Linked DNA regions of Homo sapiens. The protein of the gene in region 1 interacts with the protein of each later gene in a biochemical or structural test. Each region holds a gene or a part of one and is shown in the gene's direction. Other genes may lie near its edges. The genes, in order: H2BC4 and HPF1.

Region 1 (5,358 bases):
AGCTGGGACTACAGGCGTGCACTAGCATGCCCAGCTAATTTTTGTATTTTTTAGTAGAGATGGGGTTGGTTTTTTTTTGAGACGGAGTTTCACTTTGTCGCCCAGGCTGGAGTGCAGTGGCACGATCTTGGCTCACTACAACCTCCACCTCCCGGGGTTCAAGTGATTCTTCTGCCTCAGTCTCCTGAGTAGCTGGGACTACAGGCGCCTACAGGTGAACACCGCCACACCTGACTAATTTGTGTAGTTTTATTAGAGATGGGGTTTCGCCATGTTGGCCAGGCTGGTCTCAAACTCCTGACCTCAGGTGATCTACCCACCTCAGCCTCCCCAAGTGCTGGGATTACAGATGTGAGACACCAGATCAGCCTCAGAAGACATTTTCTATTGGAAAGAGAAAACACTATTAGCAACCTATTAGTCTAATATTTAATACTTAATGTCTTCCTTAGTAATAAACCAACTCTCTACAACAAAGTGCTTCCTGGCTGCCTAAGTCATTGATTCATTCAGTTCAACATTTTCTCAATGCCCAACAGCCAAGTGTCTCTTGTATGCCAAGTTCTATGCTGATTATCAGTATTTGAATAAGAGGGGGTCTACATCTTAAGTACTGCTTAAGATGAAAGCCTCTAGGTTAACAAACTTAACACAATGTATCATTCACTACTAAATAGACCGAATACAAAATCTTGTTATTGGAGCCCAGAGAGAAGAATTGAAATTCAAGTTTTCTCTCTCTCCTTTTCTCACTCACCACAATAAGTCAGTTGCACCAAGTCTTGTAGCTCTTTACTGAGCCATGTTTTCACGTGTCCCTTTGTTTTATTTGCCACACCCTAAATAAAAATTGTACTGGCTTTTTTTCCCTGGGTTTACAGTATTAATACATTGTCAAGATTTACCTCTTCGTGTAGATTCCCTGGGGAAAATTACCTTTCCTCCTTCCCTTAAATTCTTCAGAGGTTAGAAAGCCATTAGTAACATTCTGGTATGTGGACAAAGTTTACCCATTATGTATGGATGTTTTACTCTTTCTATTTTTCTGACAATAATCTCTTAAGGAGGTGTGGTTATAGAATAGTCAGCTGTTATAAGTACTGTTTTCCTGGCCTTACAACTTAAGTTCTTTAAGCTGTTTCTTAGTTTGCTCATCTCAAAATTCGGAATAAGGATAAAACCTATCTCTTAGATTGTTGGATTAAATGAATTAACATACTGGAAGCTCATGAAATGTGCCTGGCACACAGTAGTGCCTAATAAACCATCTCTCTTATTCAGCCTGTTTTCTGATTTCAGAATCTACACTTGCTGAGCCAGGTTCTTTTCATTTCAAGGTGAGCAAAAGCATACAAGGAAGAGATGGAGGTAGGAAGAGATTAAGCCCTAGGCCAAGGTCACACACCGATTGGGAGCTGGAATCAAAGGCAATTTGGTCAGTGAATAAAAAGGATTCCAAGGCCCATAAGGCAATTCTAACCTTAGGATCGAAATTCTCGGACATACAGGAAATGCTGGGGGGGGAAAATCCGGTCTTCTCAGCCCAAGAGCCATGTGAAACCAGACCTTCAAATCTGATGATTCTCAGCCCAGCTGCCCATTAGAATCGTTGTAATTTAAAAATACCCTCGGAAAATTCTAATATGTGGCTATCAAAGGTGATCATTTGCTTTTATGCCACTTTGTTTTCACCCAAATGGGACATCCAACCCTTTTCCTTTGAGAGTAGTTGTAGGGAAAGGAGGGGGTGGAGGGAGGGAAGAGCGGAAAAGGCTGGATCCGCCCTGAGCCGGTGTCAGTATCTGGGAAGTGGGAGGCGCGTCAGCAGTAAACAGCTTCTGCTAGGATTATTATCTCCTGCCACACACTCGGATTTGAAGGCTCCAAACGAAACAATGCAAAACGCTTCAGTGGAGTTCCAGAAGCGTTAGACTAAACGACTGGGTCTGTTTGGCCAGTCTGAGCAGCTGGGCGCAGATGCATAGGCAAGACTTAGCCCGCCTAGACTTTTCTGCCCACTTAATTCCGATCAAAGCAGAAACCGGCCGGGCGCGGTGGCTCACGCCTGTAATCCCAGCACTTTGGTAGGCAGAGGCTGGCGGATCACCTGAGGTCAGGAGTTCGAGACCAGCCCGGCTAACCTGGTGAAACTCCGTTTCTACTGGTGGCGGGCGCTTGTAATCCCATCTACTAGGGAGGCTGAGGCCGGAGAGTCGTCTGAACCCGGGAGGCGGAGTTTGTATGCAGTGAGCCGAGATCGCGCCACTGCATTCCAGCTTGGGCAACAGGAGCAAAACTCCGTTTCAAAAAAGCAAGCAAACAAACAAAAAAATGCAGAAACCGAGATCCGGAAGAAAACCTCGGCGAGATTCACAGAATCCAGGAAAATAGGTCTCTAGAAATTTGTCCATGGTCCCAGATCTCCATTTCTTGTGGGTGGGGCAGCTGTTACCAGATCCCTAGAAGCAAAGGTTTTTTTGGGGGACCGTGTCTCACTGTTGCCCAGGCTGGAGGGCAGTGGCACGATCTCGGCTTACTACAACCTCCGCCTCCCAGGCTCAAGCGACTCTCCTGCGTCAGCTTCAAGAGTAGCTGGGATTACAAGGTATGTGCCACCACGCCCAACTTATTTTTTTATTTATTATTTTTATTTAGTAGAGAGGTGTTTCACCATGTTGGCCAGGTTAGTGTCGAAGTCGTGACCTCAGGTGATCAGCCCCCTCGGCCTCCCAAAGTGGTAGGATTAGAGGGGTGAGCAGAAAGCAAAGGTTTTTGAGTGGCCACAGGCCCCACTCTATTTCCTTTTCTGCCTGTAATGGCAACCTAGACGCTTGAGCTTCTTAAAATACAAGAGTAAGTTGCATGTCAGGCACCGTTCTACATTAGGGACATTAGTCTGTTTTACAGACACCTTTCAACTCCCTGGTTAACTTTTAGGTAATATACTCTGCACTTTAGCAGGAATGGGACCTATAACTCTCACAGAATTAGGAAAGTGAGGCTGCCTACAGCCTAAATTGAGAAAAAAATAGACGGGGGACTAGTCGGAGGACCAAACAAGGTTACCAACACGTTAGAGTTTTGCCTTCAATTTACATTTTTAAAGTAATCACAACGAAGTGTTTAGATCACGAGGCATCCCTGCATGTAAACTGTTAGGCACTAACTATGGTCGATCTTACAAAGCATTAACTAGAATATTTCTTTAGAGTATGATAGTACGTAACTGACCTACTATTACATACAAACAGACCAACCTTTAGTAACAGCGCTCCCCAAAAACCGAAAAGCAGTAATACGCTTTGCTCAAGGTTGGCATAAAATTAACTTACCTTAGTGCCTTTTTTCCTTCTACCTACAAGCAGTGAGGTTAGCTCTTCCTTTGAAACGGTAGGGGGGCTCTGAAAAGAGCCTTTGGGTTTGATAGCGTTTCCGGGAGCTCAGATACCTGTCAAATCACTTGCCCTTGGCCTTGTGGTGACTCTCGGTCTTCTTAGGCAGAAGCACGGCCTGGATGTTAGGAAGGACGCCGCCCTGAGCAATGGTCACCCGGCCTAGCAGTTTGTTGAGCTCCTCGTCGTTGCGGATGGCCAGCTGCAAGTGGCGCGGGATGATGCGAGTCTTCTTGTTGTCGCGAGCCGCGTTGCCGGCCAGCTCCAGGATCTCGGCGGTCAGGTACTCTAACACCGCCGCCAGGTACACCGGCGCGCCTGCCCCAACCCGCTCTGCGTAGTTGCCTTTACGGAGCAGGCGGTGCACTCGGCCCACCGGGAACTGGAGACCAGCGCGAGAAGAGCGGGATTTCGCTTTGGCGCGAGCTTTGCCTCCTTGCTTACCACGTCCAGACATTGCAATCAGACAAAAATCACCAAAACCAGCGGCCTAAGCTCACGAGAAAACAAACAAAATCAAGAAATATGTAAAACATGGCCGCTTTTATAGGTAGTTCCTGGGGAGTAAATCCGACTTTTTGATTGGTCGGTAGCAAATGCTAGTCAGATAGCCAATAGAAAAGCTGTACTTTCATACCTCATTTGCATAGCTCTGCCCACGGATGACAACTGTGCAGTTTGTCTTCCAATTAACTAAGAGGTACTCTCCATCCCTCATTAGCATAAAAGCCCTATAAGTAGCAGAAATCCGCTCTTTACTTTCGACACATTTCTGGTGTTTTAAGATGCCTGAGCCAGCCAAGTCTGCTCCCGCCCCGAAGAAGGGCTCCAAGAAGGCAGTGACCAAAGCGCAGAAGAAAGATGGCAAGAAGCGCAAGCGCAGCCGCAAGGAGAGTTACTCTGTGTACGTGTACAAGGTGCTGAAACAGGTCCATCCCGACACTGGCATCTCTTCCAAGGCCATGGGCATCATGAATTCTTTCGTTAACGACATATTTGAGCGCATCGCGGGCGAGGCTTCCCGCCTGGCGCATTACAACAAGCGCTCGACCATCACCTCCAGGGAGATCCAGACGGCCGTGCGCCTGCTGCTTCCCGGAGAGCTGGCCAAGCACGCCGTGTCGGAGGGCACCAAGGCCGTCACCAAGTACACCAGCTCCAAGTAAACATTCCAAGTAAGCGTCTTAACACCTAACCCCAAAGGCTCTTTTAAGAGCCACCCAGATACCCACTAAAAGAGCTGTGGCCAGACGCCAAATTTTATTTGGCGGCGGAGGGGTATTAGAATATAGGAACTGGAGAGGGGTGGGGACAAGTGTTGCAGCTTAGAGAGGGACAAAGGGTCCTGAACCCGAAAGAAGCCAGCCATTAAAAATGGCTTTGGGGTCAATTCGTTGTGCTTAAATTTAAAATGGAGACAAGCGGCCATTTTGCTAACTCGGCGTTCCCGGAAGAAACCGCAGGCTCGCTTAGGTTTCAGACCCAGCTGTCTGTCCCTGTCTACGTCGCCAGGATCAACGGTTGCCGTAATGTCATAATTTCGCCACCAGCTTCTAGCCAATAGGCTGTCCTGTCATTTTAAATATTAACCAATCGAGGGAAAGCTGTTTTGAGACTCTGATTTACATAGCGGACCGGAGTGGGAACCTGGGCAGTAACTGCCTAAGGAAGGACTCCCCCTCTGTTTTCGTGGCGCACACCTTCGTAGTATACTGAAGGGTGTGTCTCCTGGGTTTCCAACTGCCCCGGTAATAGTCTTTTAACCTAATATGCGTCAGTTTTGATAACAACACTAAGGCAGTACAGAACTAAAGATGTAAGCACTGCGCCAGATGTTGCTTCATACATCTTATTCTATTCAACTGGTTTATTCAAGATTCAAATCAAATCAAATTTTGCTTGAATCCCAGTGCTCAGTCAGCCATAAATGGTGTGTTGCCTGATTGAAACTTAAAATCTCCGTAGG
Region 2 (7,290 bases), on another chromosome or scaffold:
TATACCTAATAATGACGAGTTAATGGGTGCAGTACACCAACATGGCACATGTATACATATGTAACAAACCTGCACATTGTGCACATGTACCCTAAAACTTAAAGTATAATAATAATAAAATAAAAAAATATATAAATATGAGAAACATCTAGCTCAGAATTTCTCAACTTGAGCACTGTTGACATTTGGGGCCAGTAGTCTTTGTTGAGGATGCCTATCCTGGGCATTATAGGATGTTGAGCATACCTGGCCTCTGCCCCACTAGCACCGTTTCTTCCAATTGGTGACAACTAAATAGGTCTCCAAATGTCCCCTGGGGGGCAAAATCACCACCGGTTGAGAACCACTGCTCTAGGTAGGAAGAATAAAAAGGAAAGAACTTAATCCAAAAAGAAAGAATCTAGGTTCATAGAAAAACAGATTGCTGCTTAGAAAACTAAACATACGTAACTTCCAATTAAGCATATTGTCTTTACAGAAATTTATCAAATATCTAGTAGGCATTATAAAACCTAGTATACTTATATAATGAACCTGTATTGTGGTGGTCCTAGAGATGAGTATTATAACTTCATCCTGGCATTAAAAGGCCTTTTCTGAAATAATTGGATTTTTGGCCCAGAGTTTAGTGCTATTCTGCTAACTTTATTAGGAACTATAGATGTTTAACATTGTCACTAACCTTCCCTCTTTATCTGGAAAATCAAAAGGGAGGTATCTGTTTTTAAGGCTGGGTAATGATTGTAGTGAATAGCTCAGACACAACTCTAGAAGTTGCTAAAGAAACAGCTTTTTAACTGATGAATTGCTTATATCCAGTTACTTCTATTTGTTTCTCATTTGATCAATGAATCTGTTTAAAAGACTCACACCTTTAACCAAAAGAGGGCAAAATCTGCCCTTTCTTTATTCCTCTCTTCCTGCTCTTTATTATTTCTTTTTTTTACCTTTTTGTTTTTTGTGGTTTCCATTATCTTACAAAAATATATTTAAAGACTTGCTGTGTGGATTCCTCTTAACCACCATATAAACTACTCTTTTTTCCTGTGCCCAAATGAATTCCCAGATTTTACTCAAAGACCATTTAGAGAGTTTTAAGGAAAACACATGTATTTCATAGAGTTGGGTGAACAAGAGTGATAGATACTGTTATGCAAGGAGAGTTACTGAAATTTGGAGAACTAAAGTTTGTGTGCCAATTTTCAGTGTGAAAAAACAACTGATGTGAAGAAAAGTAAATTCTGTGAAGCTGATGTCTCCAGTGACCTTCGAAAAGAAGTAGAAAATCATTATAAGCTTTCTTTACCTGAAGATTTCTATCACTTCTGGAAGTTCTGTGAAGAACTTGATCCTGAAAAGCCATCTGGTGAGTTGCTCCAGAATCATTCTTGTATTAATGGAAAGAGTAATGTAATAGGAAACCAGCTGGGTGTGGTGGCTCACACTCTGTAATCCCAGCTGAGGCAGGAGGATTGCCTGAGGCCAGGAGTTTGAGACCAACCTGGTCAACATAGTGAGACCTCCACAAAAAAATTAAAAACAAAAACAAAAAACTAGACGTGGTTGCATGTGCCTATAGTCCTAGCTACTTAGGAGACTGAGATGGGAGGATCCCTCCTTGAGCTCAGTGGTTTGAGGTTGCAGTGAGCTCTGATCACTCCAGCCTCAGTGACAGAGCAAGACCCCGTCTCTAAAACATAGAATAATTGGCCAGGCATGGTGGCTTATGCCTGTAATCCCAGCACTTTGGGAGGCTGAGGCAGGCAGATCACTTGAGGTCAGGAATTCGAGACCCGTCTGGGCAACACAGTGAAACCCTGTCTCTACTAAAAATACAAAATTTAGCTGGGCATGGTGGTGCACACCTGTAGTCCCAGCTACTCGGGAAGCTGAGGCACGATCATTGCTTGAACCTGGGAAGCAGAGGCTGCAGTGAGTCGAGATTGTGCCAGTGCACTCCAGCCTGGGTGACAGAGCAAGACCCTGTCTCAGAAAAAAAAAAAAAAAAAAAAACCTAACCAAGGATATAAACTGTTCATAGAAAACAAATATTTTCCAAGATGTTTCTTCTAGTAAGAGAAAATATAGAAAGAAATATAGATTAATGCTATAGTAATGCCACTGTCACCTAGTTTATTGGCAAAGGTAATTTCATCACATTCTGGGGGAATGTGAAGGAAAGCAAGCTCTTTCATGTGTTGCAGGAGTTATAACAGTTCTGCTTCCAAGAACTTGTCTTATGGATTACATAAACTAAGAATTATGTTTGAGGATATTTACTTAAAGAAAAAATGGGAAATGGCTTAAATGCCTACCAATACCACATCTATTCAGTAGATCTTCATTGTTTTAAAAGAATGAAGCAGATTTTTAGGAAATAATAAACTATCATGCCTGAAATATGTTAAGTGAAAAAGAAGAGTGTATAGAGTATGCTACCATTAGTATTTTTTTAAAAATAGCATGGGGGAGAGAGAGTACACACATATCCCTGTATACTTTTCTGTGTGCTTATTTTGTCTCTGAAAGGATAAAGAAACTGTTAATGGGCTGTGTTCATTACTTTGCACTATACTATTTAAATTTTTTAACTAGTAGGCACTGTCATACACTATTGATGGAAATGTGTATTGATACATATTCTGAATTTTGCCAGTAGATCAGAACAGAACTGTGTAGCTGTTTCTTTAAAAATAGTCATGCCTTTAGCTGGGCGTGGTGGCGGGTGCCTGTAATCTCAGCTACTTGGGAGGCTGAGGCAGAGAATTGCTTGAACCCAGGAGGCGGAGGTTGCAGTGAGCCAAGATCACACCACTGCACTCCAGTCTGGGTGACAGAGCGAGACTCCATCTCAAAAAAAAAAAAAAAAAAAAGTCATGCCTGTATACAAACATTTATTAGCAAAGATGTTCACTGAAACATTTTAGAACAGAAAAAAGAAATAGTAAATTTCCCTCAGTAAGAGAATAGATGGTTACCTCTTTATAATGCAGTATTATGCCCTATTAAAAAATCATGTCAAATAACATTGAATAGCATGGAAAAATATTCAGAACATTTAAATGGGACAGGATGGAGGACAAAAGCAGATTACAATACAAAACAACCCTTCTCAGTTTGTTACATGTTTGTATCTGTTCATGGGGGTGGAGAGTATGGAAATTTGTTACTGTATAATAGACTATTAACTGTTATCTTCGGCTAATGAGATGGATGGTTTTAGTTTTCTTCATGCTTTAAAAATTAGTGTATGCTCTCCTAAGCTTCAGTTAAGCTGAACTATTTTTCCTGTCAAGTTATCTCCATGCTTCTATTCATGTTATTACCTCTTCCAGGAATTTTTTTGTTTTCTTCATCCTTCCCTCCTTATAAAACTGGGTCCTGTCTGGGGTGCTTCCCTCCATCTTAGAAGTAAGGACCCATTTGAAGTTATGCATTGTACACTTGCACAGACTTCATGTCTTTGTGGTTTATGAACACTCCCTGTCTGTGATCCGTGAATAGAGAAGGAAGATGGAGTCATCCAGGGTTAGGGTTGGCCAAATAGATTGTCAAAGAGTCAGGGGAATCTGGTGTGATTAGCTGAGGTAGAGGAAAGGGGATAGAAATGTTTTTTACCTTTTTTTTTTTTTTTTTTTTGAGACAGAGCCTCACCCTGTCACCCAGGCTGGAGTGCAATGGCGCAATCTCGTTTCACTGCAACCTCCACCTCCAGGGTTCAAGTGATTCTTGTTCCTCAGCCTCTCCAATAGCTGGGATTACAGGCGTGAGCCACCACACCCGGCTAATTTTTGTATTTTTAGTAGAGACGGGGTTTTGCCATGTTGGCCAGGCTTGTCTCCTCCTGACCTCAGGTGATCAGCCCGCCTCAGCCTGCCAAAGTGCTGGGATTACAGGTGTGAGCGACCACACCTGGCCTGTTTTTTACTACTCTTAATCCACACATTTTTGCTATCTTTCTCTCCCTTAACCTGTGTGTACTACAAGTATTTGAGGCTAACTGCAGTGTGGTAATGGGCCTATAGGAATACAAACCAGTCTTGCTTTGGCCAAAATAAGAAACAACAGGAATGTCTGAAATGTTAGGCTAATTCAGTGGTAAATTTAAGAGGAAATCCTAAATGTAAATACCACTTTTCCTGTTACTCTGACTTCTTTTCCATTGAATGTTTATAACTGACATCTTCACACATAACTCAAGATTTTTTTAGTTTAGAAACTTTTTAAAGACAATTGCTTAGAAATAGTTTACTAAATAAAAGCATTATTTCCTACCTGTCTCCAGAAAGTATTGTCTAAATTTATTTTCTTTATAGATTCACTTTCTGCAAGCCTTGGACTTCAATTAGTTGGTCCTTATGATATCCTTGCTGGAAAACATAAAACGAAGAAAAAATCAACAGGCCTGAATTTTAACCTTCACTGGAGGTTTTACTATGATCCTCCTGAGTTCCAGACCATTATTATTGGAGATAATAAAACTCAGTACCACATGGGGTATTTCAGGTAAAGGATCTTTTCTTCGCCTCTAAAATACAGCTGCTGTCCTGCTAATGAGGATAAATAGTTATTCACTAGCCTCACCCAAGGTGAAAGGCATATTTTCCCCTGTTGGTGGATATATGAGCCATCTGTTGTTCTTGCTGTTACCGTTTTAACCTTCCCTAGGATGGGTAAACTCTTTAGGTTTAATCTCACTTGTTTTTCCTTTCCTTGTAAACTTTTTTTCCCTTTTGGGTTCAGAAGAGCTCTTTTGGCCCAAGAAAGATAATTTAGAGCAGCTGTGCTTAATAAGCCGTGTGCCAGAGTGGCAACTGGTAGTTAAGAGTGGTCTCTGGAGTCACACTGGTCCTCTTGTTTATTATCTGTGTGACCCTGTATCATTACTGACTGTGACTTTCTGTGACTCGGTTTCCTGTCTTGTAACAATAGGGATAACTGTACATACCTGATAGGAATATTATGAGAATTAAATGAATGCATGCAGAATACTTAGAAATAGAGAAACTCCAGGAGGAAAATACTTGTCCGCTTGTACCAGTAGAAATGCTATCCTTTAAAGTGAAGATTAAATGTAAGGTAATAGAAGGAACGTGCCCAGGAAGAAGTGTTGTAGTACAGCAGAATGCACATGTGGCTAGGAATTGAATTATACTGTAGCCAAGGTCCTAACTTACTAGGTCCTTGGCTGAGTAATTTAACCTCTCGGTATTTGTTTCCTCAATTTTAAAATAAAAGGTTTGGTTATATACGTGAATAGGATCCTTTCATCTCTAATGTTTTACAATCCTTTTTCTTGTTTTTCCTTTTTTTTTTTTTTTGTATTTGAGTATAAAAGCAACTAGGTCCTAAGAATCTTAGTTTTAGGTTCCATTATATAAGATTTATCATAGATATTCCTAAGAAACTTGGAGCTTAAAACTGGCAAATTTGTTTGAATTTTTTTAAAAATGCCCTTATAAAAAAGGCATCAACCTAGATCCTTGGGAGGGACCTGGCTTTCCTTTTTAAAAGATATTTTACTGAGGAGCTGATGAAAAATGACTAGTGTGGGGTTAGCAGATCGAATAATTTGAAGTAGACCATGCAGTATTCCTACCACTACAATGTAATCATCCTATTTGTGACAGAGAAAGGGAAAAAAGTGTAATAATAGGACGATGTACCTATAATTTGGATAATTTTGAGCTATTGAAATGTCTTTGTAATTTTCACAACTGTTGTCCGTTGTTTGAGGATGCTACCTACTAAACTGAAAACATTCATTCCATATCTACTACATATACACCAGCAACAGTATAAATTTAAGCCTAACTTTGCAATATTTATAATACTTTAGTGATGGAATTTTTTAACATGCAGTATGTAAATGTGCAGATTTTATGTGTGTTGACAAAATTTTTCAGCTTGCAAAATGGGACTGCAATATTACATTTTTCACTTAAACAATTTTTTACATCTACGTTGTTGCTTTCTAAAATGAATGTGAATGCCATCTTTTATGACTGCAACTTGCCTTTTCCATTACAGAAATTTTTGTTTGATGTAATCGATAAATTCTGGTATGATTAAAAAAAAAAAAAGGCCTCCAAAAAGGAAAAAAAATAGGTGTAAATTGTTGTCTGTAGACCTGAAATCCCACTTGCCTGATAATATAAATTATGGGCAGCTAAATTTTTAATGTCTTTTGCTTACACAGGGATTCTCCTGATGAATTTCCTGTATATGTTGGTATAAATGAAGCAAAGAAAAATTGTATAATTGTTCCAAATGGAGATAATGTATTTGCTGCAGTCAAGTAAGAATATTTTAATTTATATTTGTTTACAATGTTTATACTACATTAGTCCATTACAAAGGGGGTTTGAGGGGCTGGGCACAGTGGCTTACACCTGTAATTCCAGCACTTTGGGAGGCCGAGGTGGGCAGATCGCTTAGGTCAGGGGTTCGAGACCAGCCTGGACAACATGGGTATACCCCATCTCTACTAAAAATACAAAAATTAGCTGGAGGCATGGTGGCACACACCTGTAATCCCAGCTACTCAGGAGGCTGAGTCAGGAGAATTGCTTGAACACAGGAGGCGGAGGTTGCAGTGAGCCGAGATTGCGCCACTGCATTGCAGCCTGAGTGACAGAGTGAGACTCTATCTCCAAAAAAAAAAACAAAGCGGATTTGAGACAAGCCCATAATTGTAGATTTCTAGAGATAATTTCCATGACTTTTGCAGGTAGTCTTATCTATACTGTTATTTTGTGCCTCTTCACCAAAAAAATACACCTCTTATGTAACTATTTTACTTAACGAAAATAATACTTGACCTCAGGTGTTCCATGGCAACATCAACAGTTTTGTTAGACATCTGATTTTAAACACCTGTTAAGAGTTTATTTCTTATGTATGGTTCAAACAGAAAGGCTTAATAAAGTAAAAAGAGGTGGTCATTATATCCTTGGAAGGGTTGAGGGAGCAGGCTGAGCTTCCAGGAATGACAGTTGTGTGGCTCACAGTGGATTTTGTCTCTGCCACCATCAGGGAGCTGGGAATTCGAGAACTGCTGCCACAGTGAGTGGCTCTAGGACCACATTATCTTTGGTATAATCTGGGCCAGGTAAATGGATGCCCTACTCTTTGCCTCTCAGCCCCCGTGAAGCTAAGAACCAGGTGCTGGGATCTCAGCTACAGCTGCTGCAGAACCATCAGATGCCTCTACAGCTGTGCTCATTGATGGAGATCGTGGAAGCACAGCCTCCATGTGGTATCTCTTCTGCCTCTGAGATTTCAAAGTAT

What was found.
Region 2: the proteins of H2BC4 (region 1) and HPF1 form a complex in vitro, tested with the Homo sapiens proteins (one study listed by BioGRID).

Annotation. Positions count from the first base shown.
Region 1 is NC_000006.12:26,122,724-26,128,081, reverse strand, and holds H2BC4 (histone H2B type 1-C/E/F/G/I), read left to right. Parts: upstream 1-4,155; 5' UTR 4,156-4,177; coding exon 4,178-4,558; 3' UTR 4,559-4,615; downstream 4,616-5,358. Other genes in the region: H2AC6 (histone H2A type 1-C), read right to left, coding at 3,457-3,849. UniProt on the Homo sapiens protein: Core component of nucleosome. Nucleosomes wrap and compact DNA into chromatin, limiting DNA accessibility to the cellular machineries which require DNA as a template.
Region 2 is NC_000004.12:169,747,752-169,755,041, reverse strand, and holds part of HPF1 (histone PARylation factor 1), read left to right. Parts: intron 1-1,206; coding exon 1,207-1,366; intron 1,367-4,316; coding exon 4,317-4,506; intron 4,507-6,199; coding exon 6,200-6,298; intron 6,299-7,290. UniProt on the Homo sapiens protein: Cofactor for serine ADP-ribosylation that confers serine specificity on PARP1 and PARP2 and plays a key role in DNA damage response.